Linked DNA regions of Homo sapiens: regions 1 and 2 are each linked to region 3. The links come from fine-mapping of genetic effects on gene expression. A gene starts in region 3. Each other region holds a variant in brackets. All regions are shown on one strand. Distances are from middle to middle. Region 1 overlaps IL16 (interleukin 16). Region 2 overlaps IL16 (interleukin 16). Region 3 holds the start of IL16 (interleukin 16).

Region 1 (7,950 bases), 110 kb after region 3:
CTGCTTCATGCTTGGATGTTACAGCCTGGGGATTCTAACCATGTAACAGAATTTTTCTAACACCAAAACAATTTAGAGAAGCAAAGAGCTTTGCTCCTATCATAAAAGCAAAACTACAGGTACCACATTTTAGTGGTTTCCATGCATGCTATCACTCAGTCCTCTTAATTATAATGGACCTCATTAAAGAGGCTGAGGCAGAGACATGAGATATTTTTGTGTGTTTGTTTATCCCACATATCTTGCAGAAAGGGGACCAAGAGGTGACTGGAGGTAAAGAGTCAGAATTTCTAGGGGAGGAGCTATAAAAATGTCTAGACTGCCTAGGAGAGTGTTTCTCAAAATGCATTCTGCCAAATGAGACCGAGAATTTCTCTATGAGAAAAGAATTCTTTGTTGAAACACTTTGGGAATCCCCATAATACCCTGCCAATACTTAGAAATCTGCCATGCAGATTTGCATTGTAGACCCTCTAAATGCCTTTTGCTTAGAAATCTGCTGCCATGCAAATTTGCATTGTAGACCCTCTAATGCCTTTTGCTTTTTAAAAGTAGACAATGTCAGAGCTTTTGTTTCACCCAGTATTCCTCAAGTTTCTTTGATTTTAAAAAATTTTTCTTGGCCGGGTGTGGTGGCTCATACCTGTAATTCCAACACTGTGCGGGGCCAAGGTGAGAGGATTGCTTGAGCCCAGGAGTTTGAGACCATCCTGGGCAACACTGGGAGACCCTGTCTCTATTTTTTAAAAAATAATAGGAAAAGCCTTTTTCTTACACAATACCCGTTAATATGCCATAGAATCAGTGCCTTGAGAAAACTACTCTGGGGACTTCTGACCTAGGGCAGGTGAAGCAAAAGATTTTATATGGAATCCCAACTAGAATCGTGGTGGTACACTATAGGACGTTGTGTTGGGATGGATTCTGAGGGCTTACCTGGTCATTACTGCTGGTGATCTCTGCTCTGGATGGAGAAGGAGGGAATGCTGGCCTCTGTGCCAGCAGCTCCAATCTAGGACACAATTATCTTTAATCTTTGTTGGCCTAAAAATCCTCTAGCATTGACTAACCGGTTCAATCCTCCTCCAGCAAGTATGTGGACTGGACTTGTGTGATTTCTGGTCCTGACTTCCTTTGGTTTGCTCAGGTTCACAGAGTGTTTCCAAATGGGCTGGCCTCCCAGGAAGGGACTATTCAGAAGGGCAATGAGGTTCTTTCCATCAACGGCAAGTCTCTCAAGGGGACCACGCACCATGATGCCTTGGCCATCCTCCGCCAAGCTCGAGAGCCCAGGCAAGCTGTGATTGTCACAAGGAAGCTGACTCCAGAGGCCATGCCCGACCTCAACTCCTCCACTGACTCTGCAGCCTCAGCCTCTGCAGCCAGTGATGTTTCTGTAGAATCTAGTAAGTTCTCCCAACTCAGTGGAAGCCACATGGGCCACATCCTCTTTGGCCATTTGGGGCCAGACCTGATGGGGCTACTCAGTAATTTGTGACCCCAAGAATGTGTGGCTGCCTAGTACACTGCCTGAGACGTGTTTACATGTGCCTGTGTGCAAACACGGGGGCTGTATCACCCCGGGCTCACTTGAAGCCCAGGGCATCTGTGGCCTGGGAGAGGAGAGGATCCCTAACAGAGACCTTGTGTTTTTCTCAGCAGCAGAGGCCACAGTCTGCACGGTGACACTGGAGAAGATGTCGGCAGGGCTGGGCTTCAGCCTGGAAGGAGGGAAGGGCTCCCTACACGGAGACAAGCCTCTCACCATTAACAGGATTTTCAAAGGTGTGGGGTGTGTCTGGTTCTTTGCGTGCTCTCCAGTTGTGGGCATGTGGCCAGGCCCCCAAAAGGCTTCTGGGCACTTTCTGGGCTATGTTGTTTCCCACAACTCCATGTCCTCTTCATAGGCATGCTGGTCCTTTTAGGGCTCAATTCTGCTTTTTCTACTTTTTCTCCTTTGCTCAGACATCCCCTCAATCCCCCCTCTGTTTTGATGGGTCTTCAAAAATACCTAAGTCCTGGGCTTGGTTCGGGTTGGCAGGGCCAGGACTCTAGAGTGGGGCAGTGAGGCACTGGCCTGTGGGGCAGAATTTTAAAGGGGTGCCAAAACACTCAGTAACTCAGATCGATACTATTTTAATGCAGCGTGTTTTTTAAAATTAATTTTAAAAAAACATGTTGGACAAAATATCCAAGTTTAAATCAAGACAGAGTCTGACTTTGTACTGCACACTTGGCCTCATTTGCCTTACCCTAGTCCTGGACACGTCAGCTCCTGCCTTTATTTAAAATGTTGATAGATATTTTGTTCATCAGGGATTGGAGTACAAACCAGTCTGATATGGGGGTCACTTGGATTTCCCTGTGAAAATCATGAATGACTGTGGCTACCATGTAAAACCATCCCTGATTCTTTGGTGTTCCTCAAATTGGAGGTCTCCAAGCCACAGAGCAAGGGGTTGTAGAGAGAGGAGTACTGGACAGGGAGGCAGGTGGGCCAGGTTCTAGTCCCAGCTCTGCCTGTAATGTGCTGAGTGACCCTTCCCTTCTGGGCCTGAGGCTCTTCATCCATAAAAGGAGGTAAAGAGGTACAGGTGTGTGTCTGAGGGCTCTTAGGACTGAGACCCAAAGGGACTCTTAGCTCTGTCCCTCACCCACTATGAGCTCCTGCTGCTGACTGGTTTCGTTAGAGGAAGTTCTGCTGCGGCTGCAGAAACCCAGAAGGTAGAGTGAGGCTTACATGGCATTCCCCCCAGAATCCATGTTAACCCCAATTCTGGGAAAGATATTTCTAATTTTTGAAGGTCAATTTGGAAGGAGCATTGGGTTCAATGTCAAGAGGACTAGATTCCAGTGTTAGTTCTGCCACATGACCTTGGTAGCATGATCTTGGACAAGTCACTTCACCACCATGGGCCCATTTGCTTAAATGTTTAGGATGAGACTGCCAGCTGCAGGGTGATGTTGGAAGGAGAGATGCAGATTCTGGAGCCAGAAAGTCTGGGTTCCAGCCCAGGGCCCACCACTAGCAGCTATGAAGCTCTGGGCCAGTTACTTGAGTTCTTGGTTTCCTCAGCTGTTAAAAGGAAACACAAATAATACACCCCTCATAGGATTACTGTCATAAATGCAAAACATTAGCACAACGCCTGTTAAAATAATTGCCCAATACACTTTAGCTATATTTTCATTACTATCATTAGTATTATCTTCTACTCTTATCAGGATTTGTGAAGATCACTGTGTCAAATGGATGGGAAATTTTATTTTAATATAAACAGTAAAATAGCATTGTTTTCACTTGCAGCTTTGAAATAGTGGGGGCCATATATGGTTGTTTCCTTTTTTA[T/G]GTGGACACAGAGGACTTCGTGCCAGAGGCAAGATCCCTGTAAATATTGTTGCACAAAAATCTCACTAGCTCTCTTCCCATACCACCCAATGCTGATGTCCTCACCACATGCGGAGAACAAATGTGAAGGGAGTAGGATATTGGGTCAGTGTCCAAAGCAGGGTCTGGGCAGGACTCAGCTCCCCAGAGTCCTCTATGAACTATGGACGGTGCTCCAGGCAGGCTAAGGCGTGGAGCTGCCTGATATTTCCCTCCCCTGGGGACAGCAAGGGCTATCCCTTTCCAAAGGCCATGGAGAGCTGGAGCCTGGTGCCCTAACCTCTGAGTCACCATCTTAAGAGATGCCTCATTTTAGAACCACCAACAAGCAAGCTCCCAAGGGATGGTGCCCTGTTCTCTACCAAGCTATCCTGGCTCTTTGGAGATCAAGGAGAGGAGGCAACTTTCCTTGTTCCCCATCATCTGTGGAACCCATTACCTTCTCCCTCATTTCAGGAGCAGCCTCAGAACAAAGTGAGACAGTCCAGCCTGGAGATGAAATCTTACAGCTGGGTGGCACTGCCATGCAGGGCCTCACACGGTTTGAAGCCTGGAACATCATCAAGGCACTGCCTGATGGACCTGTCACGATTGTCATCAGGAGAAAAAGCCTCCAGTCCAAGGAAACCACAGCTGCTGGAGACTCCTAGGCAGGACATGCTGAAGCCAAAGCCAATAACACACAGCTAACACACAGCTCCCATAACCGCTGATTCTCAGGGTCTCTGCTGCCGCCCCACCCAGATGGGGGAAAGCACAGGTGGGCTTCCCAGTGGCTGCTGCCCAGGCCCAGACCTTCTAGGACGCCACCCAGCAAAAGGTTGTTCCTAAAATAAGGGCAGAGTCACACGGGGGCAGCTGATACAAATTGCAGACTGTGTAAAAAGAGAGCTTAATGATAATATTGTGGTGCCACAAATAAAATGGATTTATTAGAATTTCATATGACATTCATGCCTGGCTTCGCAAAATGTTTCAAGTACTGTAACTGTGTCATGATTCACCCCCAAACAGTGACATTTATTTTTCTCATGAATCTGCAATGTGGGCAGAGATTGGAATGGGCAGCTCATCTCTGTCCCACTTGGCATCAGCTGGCGTCATGCAAAGTCATGCAAAGGCTGGGACCACGTGAGATCATTCACTCATACATCTGGCCGTTGATGTTGGCTGGGAACTCACCTGGGGCTGCTGGCCTGAATGCTTATAGGTGGCCTCTCCTTGTGGCCTGGGCCTCCTCACAACATGGTGTCTGGATTCCCAGGATGAGCATCCCAGGATCGCAAGAGCCATGTAGAAGCTGCATCTTGTTTATACCTTTGCCTTGGAAGTTGCATGGCATCACCTCCACCATACTCCATCAGTTAGAGCTGACACAAACCTGCCTGGGTTTAAGGGGAGAGGAAATATTGCTGGGGTCATTTATGAAAAATACAGTTTGTCACATGAAACATTTGCAAAATTGTTTTTGGTTGGATTGGAGAAGTAATCCTAGGGAAGGGTGGTGGAGCCAGTAAACAGAGGAGTACAGGTGAAGCACCAAGCTCAAAGCGTGGACAGGTGTGCCGACAGAAGGAACCAGCGTGTATATGAGGGTATCAAATAAAATTGCTACTACTTACCTACCACATGCCAAGCACTGTGCTCAGGGCTAAACGGGCATTGCCTTTAGTGATCACAGCAGCTTCTACGGTGTATGGTTCTGTGCCAATGTATTGATAAGAGGGCACACACTGTGTACAGTAAATGGCTTATCCAGCTGGTGAGTGATGCGGCAGATTGAGTTTTCTTCTGTGATTCGGTGGAGACTATCAGCCCAAGATGCTTTAAGTGCACAACATTACAGGGAATGCCTGAGTGCCTGGCCAAAGGGATATTTGGTTTGGCCATCTCTGGATGCCTGATTGCCAAGCTCAGGACCAGGCAATGTGACTTTGCATCAGCAACAACCAGCATCCCTTGACCAGGCCTGGGCCAGAGTATTGGTCTCCTCTCAGCCCCTGATCCTGTGAAGTAAGGATGTGGGGGAAGACCTGGCAAGGACACAGATGAAACACAAACAATAGTAATTCTCAGGCCATCATCAGTGGAGCCATGTTAATGTAATCTGATGGCTTCTCCAGGGTCCACAGGAAGTGAAGAATCTGTTTCCCAGCAGTGGACTCAAAACCCATCTGGGCTCCTAACCTTCCTGTAAACCCCTTTAGTGGCTTCATTAGAGCAGGCGTTCAGCTCACTGTTCTATTCATCTCAAGGAATAATGGGCTTAGAGCAGTTTCTGTCCTGCTGGTTAACTTGTTTGGCCTATTCCATTCTGGATTTTGTCAAGCAGTAGACAAGCAATTAGACAAGAACTTGGAGGCACCATTTGTATCCACTTTTTAGACTTAATAGAAACATTGAAGATGAACATAATCTACCAACGAAAGACGTGATTCAATTCAACACTCCCTTCCCATGACCCAGGCTGGGCAAGGAGGCCACGTGATGTGGAGGGCACATTCCTTGCCTGCACAAACTCACCATCTGTGCACGCAGTGGCCTTCCCTAAAATCAGGGAATTGTTTTAAGTCTTATCAAGCAGCCAAGGGATGAAAGAGAAGGTGGGTTTTCATCAAGACTGGAAGGTGGGGACAGGGATGAGCATGGAGCTGGCCGTGGGCCTGGGGTACCAAGAGACTCCTTGAGAGACCAGGCAAAGCAAGTGATTGGGACAGAGGTTATCTGTCCCAGGTTATCTGGGCATAGATGCAGGTGAGCCCATGGCCCTCCCAGTACCTCCTGTCTCTGGCCTGTTTTAGAAGGTTCTCTCCTCCCCAAGGAGACACAACAACTCCTAGGGCCACTGAAGATATAACTATTGCCCAGGTTTCTGGTCTCTAGGCTGGGGAAGTCCTCTGGGTAGGAATCAGCAAGAAGATCCTAAAACAAAAGCTCATCCATTTGCGTTCCATGATGCTGGGATTTACACTTGAGGCTTAGCTTTGCTCTGCCAACTTCTTCAGAGCTGACACAGGATGAAGGCAATGCCATCCTCAAACACTGCAGGCATCACAGCTAACAATTGTGAAGTCGTCTTAACTCACCATAAAAAGGAATCCACTCCCAGGCAGCCCTACTTCTTTGCTTTGCCCAGCATTTTACTGATTCATACATTATCTCACTTGTGCCAACACTCAAGAAGCAGGCTACACTGACACTGGTATTCCTGCCTCCATATTTTCTTTAAAAGACAAATCAAAGCAGATATATTAAGTGACTGTTCAAGAGCACACTTGGCCCAAGTGGCAGAGCTTGGACTGGATGCATGTTTTCCAGCTCCTCATCCAGGGCTCTGACCAGTTTAACCTGATGCAGTCACGTGGAGGAGCAGTGCAGGCACAGTATGTCCCATAGGCCCAGTGAGATGCATTCTTGGTTGGCTGGCCTTCCACTTGGCTACACAGGGATGTACAAGGCGATCCCATCTTGATAAGACCACCACCTCAGAGTATGGAGCTCAGAGAGGGCAGGCATGAAGTTTCCTTGGCTGGTGCACCTAGAATTGGCTGAACTCATGAGAAGTTGATATAGAACAGTGCTTGCCACAGAGCGGGGACTCGGTAAGCACTTAATGAATGAATGAATTCTAAGTCAATCCAAGAGTCTGATGATTTCTTGAAAAGGGTGTTAGCTAAAGGATCTTAGGCATGACTGTAGAATTTGTAGTTGCAATAGAACAGAGAAAGAGGAAGCTTTCTGTCTCCTTAACACTGAGCTGTCATGTTTTAAAGCTTGCTCACATCTTGGCACATTTAAGAGACAGTCACCCCAGGACTCAAAAATAGGGAAGTAACAGTAACGCAGGGGAAACGTTTTCTGTTTGGAGGAGCAAAGGCTGAGAACACTGTGAAAACATTTTGCGCGCACAATAGTAACCTGGGTAAATGCAGCGTGAAGGGATTTTAGTCACACGTGGTCTTTCTTACAAGGAAGGTGGTGGGGGTGCAGATGAGGTTGCTAGAGAATGTTAGAGGATCCCTCTCTGGATTGGAGATAGGGAAAGAAAGTTGCACGGCTGCTGAGGCCCCTTCTAGGTGGCAAGGCTGTGCTCCCTGGTTCTGATGATGTGCCTGGGTGGACATGGCCCCTGTGAGTTTGTACAGTCTTGCAGCAGGATCTAGAGGGGGGATTTCCAGCCAGGGCTGCTAGACGGAGGCCTACTCTTCCATCTTTCCTGATGGCAGGATGGCCTGGCCAGGGCCTGGAAGACAGAGACCTCCTGCCTCCGCCTCAGTAAGACGACAAGGAAAGGCAAATGCCCAAGGGAAAGAAAAGGAAGGCTCTTCTCCCCAGAGTTCCCCATGCAGACATGAGTGCGTGCTCAGTTCAGAATCACTTCTGAGAACTCATCCCTAATGCTGCAGATTTGGGCTGGAACAGATTCACACTGTCTGGTTTCACCGAGGACATGAAACTCCACCTTGCGGGGATAAAGAGAGAAAAACAAATTCATCAAATGGAAGACACATTGAAAGTGTTTTTCCTTAATGCTTATCCTGTTTTTAAACCATTATTTCCAA
Region 2 (7,378 bases), 100 kb after region 3:
GTCTCCTGGAGACAAGGCCGTTCTGCAGCTGCCCTCCTCTGTTTGCTCTGGTCTGTCCCACGTGGCCAGCAGATCCTTCTCCCACAAACATTTCCATAAAAGCAATCAGCACGACATAATTTTATTGGGCACTGGAGAGGCGGGGGTCACAGAGAAAGGATCATAGCACGCAATAGAAAACAGGAAGCAATTTGCTTGAGGTCACTCTCAAAATTTCCTTGACCATTCCTGGGGATTTCTCACTGGATGTTTTCTTCCGTGGCCACAGTGTCCACTGTCTCACTCTCCCACTTTTCCCTCCCTGCAGTCTTTTCTCTACAGGGTCCCAAGACTGTTGTCAAGCTGCTATGGATGACCCCCAAGTCTTTCCCATCTACTCTAATTCAAGGGGACTTAACTCTCACAACCAATATGAACTTTGGGATATTTTCTTCAACAAAAAACTAACATCCCTCTTATAAAAAATCAGCCTAAACTCTCCCCCGTGCTTTAAAAAACTTGCTTAAAAAAACACAACAGGATTTTCGAAGAATCCTTTCTTAGAAAACAAACAAAAAAACCAAACAAAAACGTACTTTCTCCCCACTATGCTGAATCTGCTCTCTCCCTCTTTCCTTCTTTCTCTTCTCCCTCCCTCATCCACCAAGCATGGTTCCAGGAAACACTAGTAAGAGAAAAATTTGTGTAAAATCAAATTTATTTCAGGGGCTAATTCTGAAGTCTCCCATGAAGAGGATGCAATATTGGATGTGTTGATGAAAAGACAAAACACATTTGTGCTGTTCTAAGTTGTAAAGCTGCATTGACTGCAGTTGGTATCACATGTGGCTGCCTGTAAAAGAGCTAACAATTCATGAATGTCAACAGATGTCAACTTACAGAGCTCCCAACCAGGTGAAATTAAATTTCATCCCCATGTAATTTCTCTTGTGGACAAGAGACTTAGAGATCATCAGGCCAATATTTGGAGCTTCTAATGCCATGACTCAGCCTTACTTTTTTTAAGGGCTAGTTCGAGAAGCTCAATGATTCCTTTGAAATTGGTTGATCTCTCAGTATTTCATAATGCTCTCCTAAAGCTCAGTTCTACAGTAGGGAACTCGAGCTGAGGCAATGCTCTGTGAATACACTTCTAACTTTTGTAGACCTTTGCTTCCTCCAAAATGTTTATTGTCAATGTAGATCTTAAATTTCAGGTCATGGATATTTGCCATTGCTTTTTTAGTCCCAAAGGATGCATTTGTTCCTTCCTCTTTCCTTCCTCTCTGGAAGGAAGCCTGCAGCCATGTCAAATGGCCCATCATTACACAAATCTGGAATGAACCGGACGTGGAGGCCACCGCAGTATAGCAAAGCATTTCTCTTGCAGACAATCAAATACAGGTGGCATCATTTTGATGATGTCTGCTTTCTCAATCTTTTTTTCCAGATGGGTATTATGTTTGGTTGGGCTATGTCTCTGGAACACTATTTTTCTGCCTCTCTGCCTGCAAAATTCTTACTCTGTTTATGAAGCAGACAGAAAGTACTTCTCTAGGAAGCCTTCTCCACCTCTGGGATGGAACTGGTCTCTCTGTTTCCTCTGGGCCCTGACAGTACCTTAAGCACACTGTGTGATAATCCAAACTCTTCAAGTATTGCATAGCTATTCAGAGCCTGGTTCATCTTGTCCCTAGGCTGTTTTGGGAGGACCCCAAGGCTGCATCCAGGCTCAGTGGTGGAAACAATTCTGCAACAGATTGAGGATGTCACCCTAGGTGCCACAGAGGGGAGCAATGGCACAGGTGCTGAGTATCTGTCATCTTTTGCAGAACACTTACTAAATATTTGAAGAGTGCTTAACAAGTGACAGCAATTGACAAGCATTTTCCTGAGTGCTCTAACCTTAGGGAACACTAGCTGCCAGGTTTTTTTGCTGCCTTGTTTCTACGCTGCCCTATACCCTCCCGGGGTGGGTAGTTCACCAGATGCAGTTGTAACTGAAGCAATGCCAGTCCCTCCACACTCAAAGCCTTTTGTTCCTATCATAAAGAGTCAGGGTCTTCAAGTATGTCAACAGTATGAGCCCATGACCTGGATACCAGGTTGCTGGAAGTCAAGGGATGCTCTGCATGTCTAGGAGGTGCTGGCTCTGCCACGTCAGCACCAAGGAGAAAAGAATCCTCTTTACATGGCTGCTGATGAACTTCTCACTGAAAGCAGCTCAATATCCGTTTTTCCGTCCCAATCAAAGCGTGTCTCGCCTTCTCACAGCTTGAGGCTACCGTTTTGACATGGTCTCGCTTCCTGTTTACACCACAGGAAGCGAGAGAGCTGCTGCCACTGCTGCTACCACAGGAAGACACAGCAGGGAGAAGCCCTAGTGCCTCTGCCGGCTGCCCAGGACCTGGTATCGGCCCACAGACCAAGTCCTCCACAGAGGGCGAGCCAGGGTGGAGAAGAGCCAGCCCAGGTAAGCTTTCATTGAGATCTTCCAAAAGGAAGGGTCTTTTGAAAAAAGGTGCAGGGATAAGATAAGAGCACAAATTGGCCTGAGGATCAGAGTGCTCTGCATTGACATCACCACTGGACCTGGCTGATCAACAGTCAAGGGTTCCAGGTGCTGGGCAGCAGCACCGTGGAGGTGCTGTCCAGGGTGGGGAGCCTCCTGGGTGGACGGGTGATGCTGTGGGGGTGGCAGCAGGAATGCAGGCCATTCTGGATAATTGGGAGGATGGAGCCCTTGGAAGAGGTCCAAAGACACACCCACCCAGCCATCCTGGGCAGCTACCTCTAGGGTGCCAACATTCCAGTTGCAACAGTCCTGCTGCATTCAGGATTTCTGAGTCAGAGAATGCAACGCCAGAAAAGTATAAATAGCATCTACCAGTGGTCACCTCCTCCATGAGGTGGATAGCAAGGGTGTGTCCACATGGTACACCTGACAATGCTAAGACATGACTTGAATATTTATTTGCTTGCTAGAGAGAGCATAGGACTTGAAGTCAGGGAATCCTGGATCTGTCTGTCATTAGTATGATTCTGAGCAACCTACTTTGCCTTTCTGAGCCCAGATTCACTCATCAGCAATGTGTGGAAGAGCACGTAGACCCCAAGCATATGATGCATTCAGCAAGCACACATTGAATGCTGGCTTCGTGAGGCCCTGTGCTAGATGCTGGGGGGAGAGAGAGAAAGGGATGAGACCAGGTAGTCAGGTCCTGCCTCCAAGGAGCAACTAGTAGTGGCAGGAAATAAACATATAGACTATAAAACATATGACTGTTTGAGTAACACTACAGAAAAGCTCATGAAAGACTTTTGGAGGGCTAAGGGACATTTTGGAAAGATCTAGCACATCTCACCCAGAGCAGAGGCCCTGTGGGTGGA[G/T]GCTCCTCTCCCTTAGTCACCCTAATTGAGGAACATTCTAGCAAAAGCAAACGCCTCAGTGTTTAACTGACAGGAGGTTGTCACTCCAATCTGCAAAGGGCTTGCCTGTGGAACCTCTGCCTCCTGATTCTCACAACAGCACCTTACAGCCAAGCCATTCAAAAATGCAGAAACAGGCTGGAGGCCTGGGCTCACTTGCCCAAGGCCAGTCTCTTAGATTGTGCAGAATTTCTCTTTGATATCATCAAGGTGTAATGCTCCATGATTCACTTCTTTTGAAACCTGGCATTGAGACAAGGGACAGGAGGGATCAGAGTTCCTTCAACTGGGTTGCGTTCCAGTAGCAAGCATCCCCCAAGGCACACAGGCCAGCCTCCCTCTGCCCCTGGGAAAGAGAGCCAGGACACCCTCTCCCTTACCCATGCAGATATGATGCTGGTTCAATGCTGGCTTCTGAGAAAGACTCCTATGTGCTCCAGGGCATGCCTGAGGTCCTGGCTGGCACAGAGCAGGTTGCACATTGCAATCCCCTGCTCATCACATTCCCAACACCCAGGCTGCATCCCAGGTATCTTCAGTCAGTACCTAGGGGTGGGCGTCAGTATTTTTCAGGGCCCTCCAGATTCCAGTATGTAGCCAAGGTGGAGAATCCTACTTCACAGATTCCTTTCTACCTGGAACCTTTTCATCAGCTTTTGAGGGAGGGAAAACACTCCTTTGCCGAGAGCAAGCTGATCAATGACCTGTGTATAGGCAGAGCAGCAAACACACGGCTTCAGGGCCAGGCAGGTACATACATGGGAAATGCTGGCTGGGTGAGAGGGAGCGTGAAGAGCTGTGGGAAGCCGAAGTGGCCCCATCAGAAGCTGTGCACAGGCACCTTGTTTTTAATGACACGGGTAGGTCAAAGCACAAACAGCTGCCAACTCATGACCTTTGTCTTAAAAGTTTAAACGGCAGGAGAACTGCTTTGGCTTTTACACATTTAACATGGTATCTTGGAGGCTCCTTAGTGCAGTAGAAAGGACATGAACTTCAAGAGTCAGGAGACACAGGGTCTTGCCTGAGCACTGCCATCAGATGGCCCCTTACCCTTCTTGAAATGTAATATGCCAGAGGTCGGCCCAGATATTCTCTGAGCACCCTTCCAGGCCTAAAACACTAGGATACTGTGAGATTAACTCCTACTTCTGGTCCTTCACTCCTGCCTGTTGGCAGCTCAGTCAGGTAATAGCACCTGGAGTTCACCCACCTGGGTGTCCCCCACTTCTGCTAATCTCCTCCTCTTGAATCCTTCTTGCTGTTCAGCTTGGAAACTAGAATTTAGGAAGAAAAGTCACTGTATGATGTAATGCACAGCTTTGGCCTTGTTTCTGCACTGTAGTGACCCAAACATCCCCGATAAAACACCCACTGCTTAAGAGGCAGGCTCGGATGGACTATAGCTTTGATACCACAGCCGAAGACCCTTGGGTTAGGATTTCTGACTGCATCAAAAACTTATTTAGCCCCATCATGAGTGAGAACCATGGCCACATGCCTCTACAGCCCAATGCCAGCCTGAATGAAGAAGAAGGGACACAGGGCCACCCAGATGGGACCCCACCAAAGCTGGACACCGCCAATGGCACTCCCAAAGTTTACAAGTCAGCAGACAGCAGCACTGTGAAGAAAGGTCCTCCTGTGGCTCCCAAGCCAGCCTGGTTTCGCCAAAGCTTGAAAGGTTTGAGGAATCGTGCTTCAGACCCAAGAGGGCTCCCTGATCCTGCCTTGTCCACCCAGCCAGCACCTGCTTCCAGGGAGCACCTAGGATCACACATCCGGGCCTCCTCCTCCTCCTCCTCCATCAGGCAGAGAATCAGCTCCTTTGAAACCTTTGGCTCCTCTCAACTGCCTGACAAAGGAGCCCAGAGACTGAGCCTCCAGCCCTCCTCTGGGGAGGCAGCAAAACCTCTTGGGAAGCATGAGGAAGGACGGTTTTCTGGACTCTTGGGGCGAGGGGCTGCACCCACTCTTGTGCCCCAGCAGCCTGAGCAAGTACTGTCCTCGGGGTCCCCTGCAGCCTCCGAGGCCAGAGACCCAGGTGTGTCTGAGTCCCCTCCCCCAGGGCGGCAGCCCAATCAGAAAACTCTCCCCCCTGGCCCGGACCCGCTCCTAAGGCTGCTGTCAACACAGGCTGAGGAATCTCAAGGCCCAGTGCTCAAGATGCCTAGCCAGCGAGCACGGAGCTTCCCCCTGACCAGGTCCCAGTCCTGTGAGACGAAGCTACTTGACGAAAAGACCAGCAAACTCTATTCTATCAGCAGCCAAGTGTCATCGGCTGTCATGAAATCCTTGCTGTGCCTTCCATCTTCTATCTCCTGTGCCCAGACTCCCTGCATCCCCAAGGAAGGGGCATCTCCAACATCATCATCCAACGAAGACTCAGCTGCAAATGGTTCTGCTGAAACATCTGCCTTGGACACAGGGTTCTCGCTCAAGTGAGTTTCTACACCCGGTGTTTCTCTTTACCTTTCTCATCTTTTTCTTTCTCATCTTTATTTTTAAAAATAATCCTATATATAATTTAAAAAATTCCCAGATATATTGATTAAAGAATTGTTCTGCCTCTTTCTTTCCATGTGTGTGCAGATGTCTGAGTGTGTGTGTGTCTGTCTGTAGGTATTACACCTCTGCCTTTCACATTAAGGAGGAGTTTTCACAACATCTGGCTTCAGGAGGGCTGGGAGGTAGGAGGTGGGACTGGCTCCCTGGTGAATTGCTCATGAGGGCTGACATACGCCTGTGGAGATTTGGAAGGTTGATGCACATCTGAAATGTCCTGCGGTTACTCAGAAAGACCAGAATGAGGCCAGGAAATTATCCATCAGGAATTCTTACTCTCCAAATGGAATCCACTTGTACTCTGCACGTGGGTTCAACTCCCTCGTCAGGGAGTTAGGATGTCTGGGTCCTAGTCTCAGCTTAGGCACTGATTCTGACTATGAGCAGGTTCTTTCCATGCTCACCCTCAGATTCCTTGTCAGTTGAAATTAGGAGATGGATGAGACCTTCTATGCAGAACCAAGAGGATGTCAGACGTGCCATAGGGTCCCTGCTGTAGGGCTGGGGCTTGGTCTTCCCTCTGATCAAAGTAGCTCTGCATTTATTAGTTTTATTTATTATTCTTACACTGCTGGGAAATATCTGTAGAGTGAAGGTATGCTAGTATCTACTCATAGATTTGTTGCATCAAATAATATGCACATAAGTGCTTGGCACCACACCTGGGACATAGTAATTATACAATCACTGTTACCTCTTTTTAATATTGTTGTTCATACTGTGTGTTGTTTCTCCTTATGAAAGCCTTTCAGAGCTGAGAGAATATACAGAGGGTCTCACGGAAGCCAAGGAAGACGATGATGGGGACCACAGTTCCCTTCAGTCTGGTCAGTCCGTTATCTCCCTGCTGAGCTCAGAAGAATTAAAAAAACTCATCGAGGAGGTGAAGGTTCTGGATGAAGCAACATTAAAGGTAGGTTTCCTTTGTAAGCATCTGCAGTAACCAATGGCTTATTATGGCTGTGTGGCCACCTTAGTTGGGCCAGAGGGGAAGTAGCTTGAGTAGCCTGCTCACATCAGACCCAGGTTGCGTCCTGTGATGGTGGGACACTGTAGCACTTGACCACAGTAAGACCTTCCATTTGAAGAGAGCCTTTTAGCTTGTGAACCACTTTCAGTAGATTGACTTCTTGCATCTTCTTTTGTCATTTTATAAATGAGAAAGGTAAGGCTCAATCAAGGTTACAGAACCTGGGTTTTCTGTCTCCAAGTTCAAGTTCAGTGCTGTTTCCACATTCCATGTGCTGCTGTCCTGGCATGTGTCTGTTGTGGGATGCTGTCCATTGTAAACAATGTGGGTTACAAGAGCTCTCACCTGGAGCTTTCATTATTTCCACTGTGCATGGAGAGGTGGCTGATCCCAGGGCTCACAAGTCCCCCACGCTTCAGTCAAGTCATTCTGAAA
Region 3 (7,950 bases):
GGAATCAAGGGACCAATGGCTTCTGACTGCACAGCCTTGGACGTGCACTTTTTGGACATGTAACTTCTCTGAGTCTCAGTGTTTGCATCCGTAAGTGGGGACGTACAATAAAATCATCAAGTTTTGGCCTCAACATTCTGTCTAAGTTGAAAGTGCTAAATGCAGAGAGAATTTATTATCATCATGTCCATTACTGTCAGGTTACATTACTAGTAACATTACATTACTAGTTAAAATTGTTACATTACTAGTTAAAATTGTTAAATTATATTCTGCGTCATGTTACATTACTAGTTAAAATTGTTACATTACTAGTTAAAATTGTTAAATTATATTCTGCTCATGATAATACAGTTCGCATGACCAAAAGTGTACAGCATAAAGAATTCCCAAGGCATTTTATAGATTGCAGGACAGCTCTTTGCTCAGACCTCTGAGCAGCCCTGTCAGATTATTGGGTTATTGTTTCCATTTTGTGGACATGGAAACTGAGACTCAGTAAGGTAAAAGGACTTGCAGTTGACAGAGCCGCTTAGTACAGAAGCTGGGGCTTATTGCTCTGACCCTAAGCTCTTTATTTTGCCATTGTTTGAACAGAATAGGAGATGACCCTGTTGTGTCATTTTAAGGACACACTTTCTTTTTGCCTTCTGAATATGTTTACTTGCCACAACAAACATGTATTACTTTTATAACTAAAATTTTGAAATTAAAAATTTTTGTAATTTTAATTTTTTAAATTAAATTTAAATTTGTAATTGTAATTTTAATTTTTAAAAATTAAATTAGAATTTTTAAAATTAAAATTTTTTAAATTAATTTTTCAAAATTTATAATTTTAATTTTGTAATTAAAATTTTTGTAATTAAAAATTTACTTTTGGAAATAAAATTTTGTAATTAAAAAATAGGAGAATTAGAAGGAAATACAGGTTATTGATTATGAAACTTTAGCAAGCATCAGAATCACTTGTTGAACAGATTTCTCAGTTCCGTGGGCTGGAAGGGCCAAAAAGGTGAGCAGGCTTCTGCTTGGTTAGCTGTTGGCAGCATGCTTCCTCCTCTATTGCCTCATTCTCTCAGTAACACTGTGCAGTAGAAGTTTCTAATTTCATCTGGCAGACAATTAATTTCATCTAATTTTCATCGTAGCAAACTAAGGCTGTGAATGACCAAGATCACACAGGAAGCTCTTGGTTGAGCTTCAAGTGGTGCTTGAACTTCCTAGTTCTAACCAGGGCGGGGCTCTCTCACCTGCGTCTTCCTCCCCGTCTCTTCTGGCTTGCAGTGAGCTGGACTATGGAGTGTTGGGCAGGGTGGAGACTCTTTCTGCAGGATGTCCTGAAGGGCAGAGGGGTGATAAAATTTCCACCTTGAAGCACAAACCACCCCGTATTAGGAAAAATCAGGGCCAAGTCTCAACTACACTTTGGAATAAATTTACCTTCTGAGAGTGAGAAAGAACAGATCTTCGGAAAATAGAGGGAGAGGCGGGAACTGGATTCAGGTGCCGATGACAAGAGAGAGCTTAGACTTAGTGGAGGAGGGGGGCTGTGGGGCCCTCCCAGGCCTCAGGATCCAAGAAGGGCAAGGCCAGCCCCCATAGCCCTGGGGTGCTGAATTGCTCCTCAGCCTCTCTGCCAGAGCAAGATGGAAGTGGGGCCTGAGTCTGTCCTGGCCCCACCGCACCCAGGCCATTGTGAGAGAGATTGTGGGTGTGAGCTGAGCAGGCGACACTGACAGAGGCGCTCACTCTCTGCAATTTAGAAATTCCTTCACTGCACTCCAGACTCACTCCAGACTCAGCCCTACAATGTCCCCTGTGCCTGCTGACAAAGGCAGCTTTATCCCCAGAGTGCTCCCTCCTCCCGTGCTTCCCTTGGGACCGTGGGCCTGTGTTCTCCAGCAGCAGCGGCTAGATCTTTGCAGCCTTGCATGGAATTTCAAGGGCTTCCTACAGGTTGCACCTACACCCTCATTAAAGCCCCCAGGAAGCCCTGAAACATTTGGTGCTGAGCGTTGGGAAACATTCCATTCTTTAGAAGAGAGGTCCATACAAAAACCTCAGCCTAGCATGTACACAGGGCTCACAGAGACTGAGCTTAGGAGAGATGTGTGGGATGCTCTTTGCGGGGCAGATGGATTAAATGCCACCTTATGATTAGATTCTCCAAGGGGCTACGTGGGGGAAAGGCACTCTGGTCTCATGACACTAATGCCAACAGGACACACACAAAAGTGCCCCATTCTTTTATGCTGCAGTTTTCAACATGCTCTGTATACGTTAGGTCATGGGCTCTCGCACCTGAGCACGCACCAAAATCACCTGGAGGCTTTGTGAAAACAGAGTGCCAGAGGTGCTGCTTCAGGAGGTCTAGGCCAGGGCCTGAGAACTTGCATTTCTAGCAGATGCTGCTGATGCAGCTGGCTTGAGGACCACTGAGTTACATAAGCTTCTGAGAGCCAGTCTGTTGTTTTTGGGAAAGGGTGGCACAGACAAGAAATGAAATGCTATGGAAAAAGCCTGGGCTTTGGAGACAGGTGGATTTTGACTTGCTAACTTGCTAACTGTGTGACCTTGGGGAAATTCCACGGCACGTAGTAGGTGTTTAATGAACGTTTGTGCAGTGGCTTTCTTTGTCTGCAAAGCAGGTGATATATTTACCAGATTGATGGCAGGATTGTATGTGATGACTTTTTTCCTCTTTTTATTAAATTTTTATATAATTTGAGAGGAGTTCTTGCTATGGTTTGCCCGGGCTTGTCTTGAATCCCCCGGCTCAAGTGATCCTTCTGCCTCAGCCTCCTGAGTAGCTGGGATTATAGGCACGTGCCACAGCTTCCAGCATGTGATGAGGTTTATAGAAAGCTCCTAGCAGCGTGCCAGGCACATTGCAGGCACCGAGTCATGTCTGCTACCTTTCGGCTCTCCTAGTCATTTCTGTGTTGTCCAAAGAAGGCAGGGGCAACTGGGCTGGACCAAGGAACCTCACTGTGGTTCTGTGGCTCTGCACTGGGTTTGCCTCCTGGGTGTTGCCGGCCAGCCCAGCAGATGGTGGACCTTGTTCTGAGGCTGAGCTTCTCAGCACTGGCAGCCCCCCTTTTTGGATCAAGCCTTTTCACGTGGAGCAGTCAGATGGCTCAGATCAGGAGTCTTCGAGCAAATCCATGCCAGGTGGGACACATTTGTCCTGAGTCACCTGTCCAGAGCAGGTGGTGAATATTGTGTCCTACTCACGGCATCTCAACTATCGGAGCCTGGGATCTGACTCAAAGGCCGGCCTCCGTCTGAGAACTGAGCGTCCATTTCTCAATCCTTGCCGGCTCTGACCCAGGCCTGGGCCACAGGCTGTCCGGGAATAAGTGGTGCTGCAATCCCTGCTGGGCAGATGGAGAGAGGAGCAAGGGAGATGGCAGCCCCGGGGGACTGTGCATAGGGAGGTAGGTGGGCACCAGGTGAGTGAATGTCTGTCAGGCAGCTGCTCTGTCCAGGTGGCCGTTACCGGAGGGAGGAAGCTGGCCTCTCTGACCTGAATGGGGAGGGTCTTGGTTGCTAGGACGTAACTTCATATTTGGAAGTGGTGCTGGGGTCAGGGGCAGGAGCAGAAGCCAGGATTGTGTTGGTAGGAATCTCTGTGTCACCATGTCACAGTTAGGTACAGGAGGAAGCAGCTTCAGAAGGCCAGAGCGGGCAGAGGGATATCGCTTGACCTGGCTCTGCAGCACGGGGAGAATTTGGTCCTGAGATTTCTGACTTTTCAGCCTCGTCTCATCCTTGGCAATGGGGTGTGGAAGGAGGTGGAGGAAAGGAAGGCAGCAGGAGAGAGAAAGGCCACGGGGCACCTGATGGGGGCTTCTCTGCTGCCTGGCCAGACTCCTTTTCTCCAAAGTGGGCACAGCGGGTGGGCATCTCTGCAGATTGACCATGGGAAAAGTGTTCACTCTGCTTGCTTTTTGATAAGGGTCCCGTGACTAATTCCTGCATTGGTAGGTCCCAGGATTGGTGTTTTTTTGTTTTTGTTTTTTGTTTGTTTGTTTTTTTCTTTTTTGGTCCATAGCAAGTTTGCTTTCTGTAGCTGGAGAATGAGGTAACAGCATAAGAATAGAGGTTCCCTGTGGAATACAGGGAAGCATCTTCTCCTCCTGCCCTTATCAGGTGAAATCCTCCCACTTCAGGCTGAGCCATACAAAGACGACCCCTTTGTCCCAGGAGGCCAGTTCAAGCTCCCACTGGGTTCCTGGAAGCAGCCTGGGAGCTGCCGTCTCTGTGGCTCCCCTTCCTATTTCTCCAGTTTCCCCCGGAAGGAGAAGACCGTTCAGCCTTTTTCCTCCTCTGTTCTCCTTCTTTACCCTGAAGTTAAGTGATGGTCAACATTTACGAGCACAGTAGAAGGCACCTCCCCTGCTGCAGATATGACGTGGGCATGAGCCGTCAGGTGGGTCAGACCCTTGAAGCCTCTACTGCTCATTTATTCAATCCCCAGTGAGTCTTTTAAATAAAACTTAGTACCCCAACCATTTCCTGGCCACTCTTCAAGCCCCAGGCACCAAGCTAAAATATTCACATACCTCATTTAATTTAAACCTTACAACAACCTGGAGCTTAGGGAGTATATCCCCAAACCGAGAGGTGAGGAGGCTTGCACAGGACCACTCAGCTAGACGTTCCCAGGACCCAAACCCAGCTTGACTCCAAAATCCATGCTCTCACTGGCTTTGTGGCATGCCTCAATAAATACTTGAGTTTCCTCAACACAAAGATGGTCATATATCCATAGGGTTAAAAAATAATCTCTGTTGGATGCAATTGACTATAGAATTATTATTTTCTAATTGTTTGTATTCATGGAAACCTTTTTAGAATTAAAATCTATCATGAAAACTCATGTATAATCAGTTAAGGCAGAATTATTTTGGCAGAGGCAGACCAGGACCTTGAGACCTGCCCTTTTGTCAACCCCTCCCCCTTTCTGGTTCCCAGCAGTGGCCCAGGGGTATAGGAGTGAGAGGGAGGGAGGTACACTTTGAATTGAAATCTACTGGCCAGGTACAGTGGCTCACGCCTGTAATCCCAGCAATTTGAGAGGCCGAGGCGGGCGGATCACTTGAGGTCAGGAGTTCCTGACCAGGCTGGCCAACATGGTGAAACCCTGTTTCTACTAAAAATACAAAAATTAGCCAGGCGTGGAGGCACATGCCTGTAATCCCAGCTACTCAAGAGGCTGAGGCAGGAGAATTGCTTGAACCCGGGAGGCGGAGACTGCAGTGAGCCGAGATCATGCCACTGCACTCCAGCCTGGGTGACAGAGGGAGACTCCATCTCAAAAAAAAAAAATATATATATATATATATATATATATATATAAAATACATATTTTTTATTGTGCATTTGAATTGGTAATACATTTTCATATATAGGTTACGTTTTGCTATTAAAAAGCAATTCATTGTGAATAGCAATATGCTCATAAACACGGGGAGAAAATAGGCATGGGGCAAAATAAACAAATAGTTCCAAGAACTTGGAGTTGTGGTTAACTAGGAAGGCAGCTTGAAATCAGGAATTTACTTCAAGTTCTTCTTTTGAATTCCTGTTGAAATAAGGACGAATCTATGTCAGTCTTGTAAACTAGACAGTGTTGCTCAGTGTGTGCCAGAAACACTGAGAAGTCTCAGTGGATGTCTCAGGTGGATGTGAAGGACGTTGGGTGGAAGGGCGGAGCCCATCAGGAGGGAGGCGCTGTTCTTGCCACATCTGGAGATGCTGGAGGAGAGGTTTGCTTTGAGTGGGAGCAACTGGTAATGCTGGACAGTGACCCGATGCTGGGATCCCGCGTGGAGATCTCCATCGGTCTTGCCCCTGGCTGAGTCTTGGCATGTGCAGCTGGGATGGAAATGCTCCTCCAGTGGACAGTTACAGCAGCTAAGACATGGCTACCTTGCTCAGCCAATAGGAGGCGGTCACCTACAAACATCCCTTCCAAAGGTTCAAGGCTCCCCTGAGAACTTGGATGCTGGGGAATGGTGCACCTTCCCTGCTGCTCACTGCACCTCTCACCTGGCAAAGAAAAGCCACAGGAAATCTAAGCCCTTTCTGCAGTCTGGCATCGGCATATGAAAGATTCCAACGAGGAATTTCAGAACTCATCCCAGCTCCCGAATCTGAGTAAGCACAGACCTCTTGAGTAGGGCTGAGCAAATGCGGCAAAATCAATGCACATATGACAAGATTCAGTGGCCCAAAGAAGGGAGCTAAATGAGGAATCAAAGCAAATACCCCATATGGAATTGCTGTAAAAAATCAGAGAAAACCTGAAAGTAGTGGTTTTCAAGCATGACCCACTAGTGGATTGAAAATCAACTTAGCGGGTTGGAACCAACTTCCTTTTTCTAAAACAAAAAAAGAATAGCATACATCAGATTGCATCAGGTTCTTAGCAAAATCATATTTTATATTATCTTTTTCATACCAAAGATATTTTATATTATTTTTATTATACCGTAGTAAAGGTATTGTTTCATGAAAGTTTTTAGTTATATATATTTATTTATTTATGTATACATATAAATCTTATGTGTATGTGATCCATGTACTATGATGTAAAATGTAAATTATTATGGTAAGTCAAGATTTTTTTAATTTTTAAAATTCTTTAAAAATTATTTTTATTTATTTATCTATTTATTTTTTGAAACAGGGTCTCACTCTGTTGCCCAGGCTGGAGTTCAGCAGTGCAATCCCGGCTCACTGCAGCCTTGACTCCGTGAGCTCAGGTGATTCTCCCCCTTCAGCCTCCCGAGTAGCTGGGACTACAGGCACACGCCACCACACCTGGATAATTTTTTGTATTTTTATTAGAGATGGGGTTTTGCCATGTTGGCCAGGCTGGTCTCAAACTCTTGAGCTCGAGTGATCTGCTCGCCTCAACCTCCCAAAGTGCTGGAATTAAAGTCGTGAGCCACCATGCCTAGCCTAGGTCAAGATTTTAAAAGTTTCATAAATAGTCCTGTAGAACACTGGGTGGAGTTTGGAATGGTGAAAATGTGTCAGGAGAGTATTGTAACTGAAATATTCCTGATCTTCTCTTTCAAAAAGATGGCCTTCTTCCCATTATCCAAGGCAAGGATTTCAGGCCTGAGTCAGCCATAAGCTCATCTGTCTTTTTTTCTGTACTTACCTCCTCATAAATGGATTAAGAGAGCCTCGAGCAATGGTGAGGGTTGGAGAAGGTGGACAGGTGGCCCAGTCTTATGCGCTTTCCCTCTCTTCCTTCCTTCTCCTCATCCTCCAAGGATGGTTGTAGCCAACTCCAGCCAAAGTGCAGATGCCAGAGAATCCTGCAGCAGTTGCTGAGAACACAGGATACCTGTCACATTTACTGAAGCAGTGGCAGGACAATGCATCCCCTGCATTGAGCTAGTTGTCAGAAGCAGAAAATAAAAAGTGTGTGTGTGTCTCTGTGTGTGTGTGTGTGTATGTGTGGTGAAAAAGAGAAATATATCTAAAAATAATCTTAAAAGACATGATATGTAATTTCTTACCAAAACTCAAGCCAAAGCAATCACACATACACCCACACACATGCACGCACACACCCCCATCCACACACACACACACAGAAGTAAATGACAGCAGTTGGACCATCAAAATCTGAAAAATTCTTTCAGGCCAAAGACTCCATAATGCTCTATAGCTGTTATTTTGCATTTCTTTGAATCTCCTCTCAGTTCTATTTAGAGATCACGAAATGTCTAATTTAATGGCCCTGCCCTTAGTTCTCCAGGAAGGAGATCTTAGTTGTTCATCCACGAACAACTTTTTGAGCCACTTTCCTACTTCTATTTCTTCCAGTAGGCAGATCATATTTTGGGTTTCTTTGTTTTAAGTTTGTGGTTTTTGTTTTTCCCTCTTTTTCTTTTTAGGTTGTAGTTAAGTGGTGTATACAAATTT

The links.
Region 1: its variant is fine-mapped to the expression of IL16 in whole blood (TOPMed, PIP above 0.99).
Region 2: its variant is fine-mapped to the expression of IL16 in whole blood (TOPMed, PIP above 0.99). The same link has a PIP of 0.9 or more in blood mononuclear cells and monocytes.

Annotation. Positions count from the first base shown.
Region 1 is chr15:81,304,761-81,312,710 of GRCh38, forward strand. IL16 (interleukin 16) reads left to right here. Exons shown (of 19, transcript NM_172217.5): 17 at 1,148-1,406; 18 at 1,660-1,785; 19 at 3,845-7,950. The coding sequence ends at 4,038. STARD5 (StAR related lipid transfer domain containing 5) reads right to left here. Exons shown (of 6, transcript NM_181900.3): 6 at 4,293-7,950. Among named protein-coding and RNA genes, the nearest start is that of STARD5, 15 kb to the right of the region's middle. RefSeq lists a silencer at 3,794-3,971. The variant T/G (reference allele first, on the strand shown) is at 3,350.
Region 2 is chr15:81,294,627-81,302,004 of GRCh38, forward strand. It overlaps IL16 (interleukin 16), which reads left to right. Exons shown (of 19, transcript NM_172217.5): 13 at 2,302-2,452; 14 at 4,754-5,849; 15 at 6,718-6,886. Among named protein-coding and RNA genes, the nearest start is that of STARD5, 26 kb to the right of the region's middle. RefSeq lists enhancers at 2,005-2,571, 2,572-3,136, 3,842-3,891, 4,065-4,114, 7,180-7,269. The variant G/T (reference allele first, on the strand shown) is at 3,370.
Region 3 is chr15:81,193,698-81,201,647 of GRCh38, forward strand. IL16 (interleukin 16) reads left to right here and starts at 3,182. Exons shown (of 19, transcript NM_172217.5): 1 at 3,182-3,455.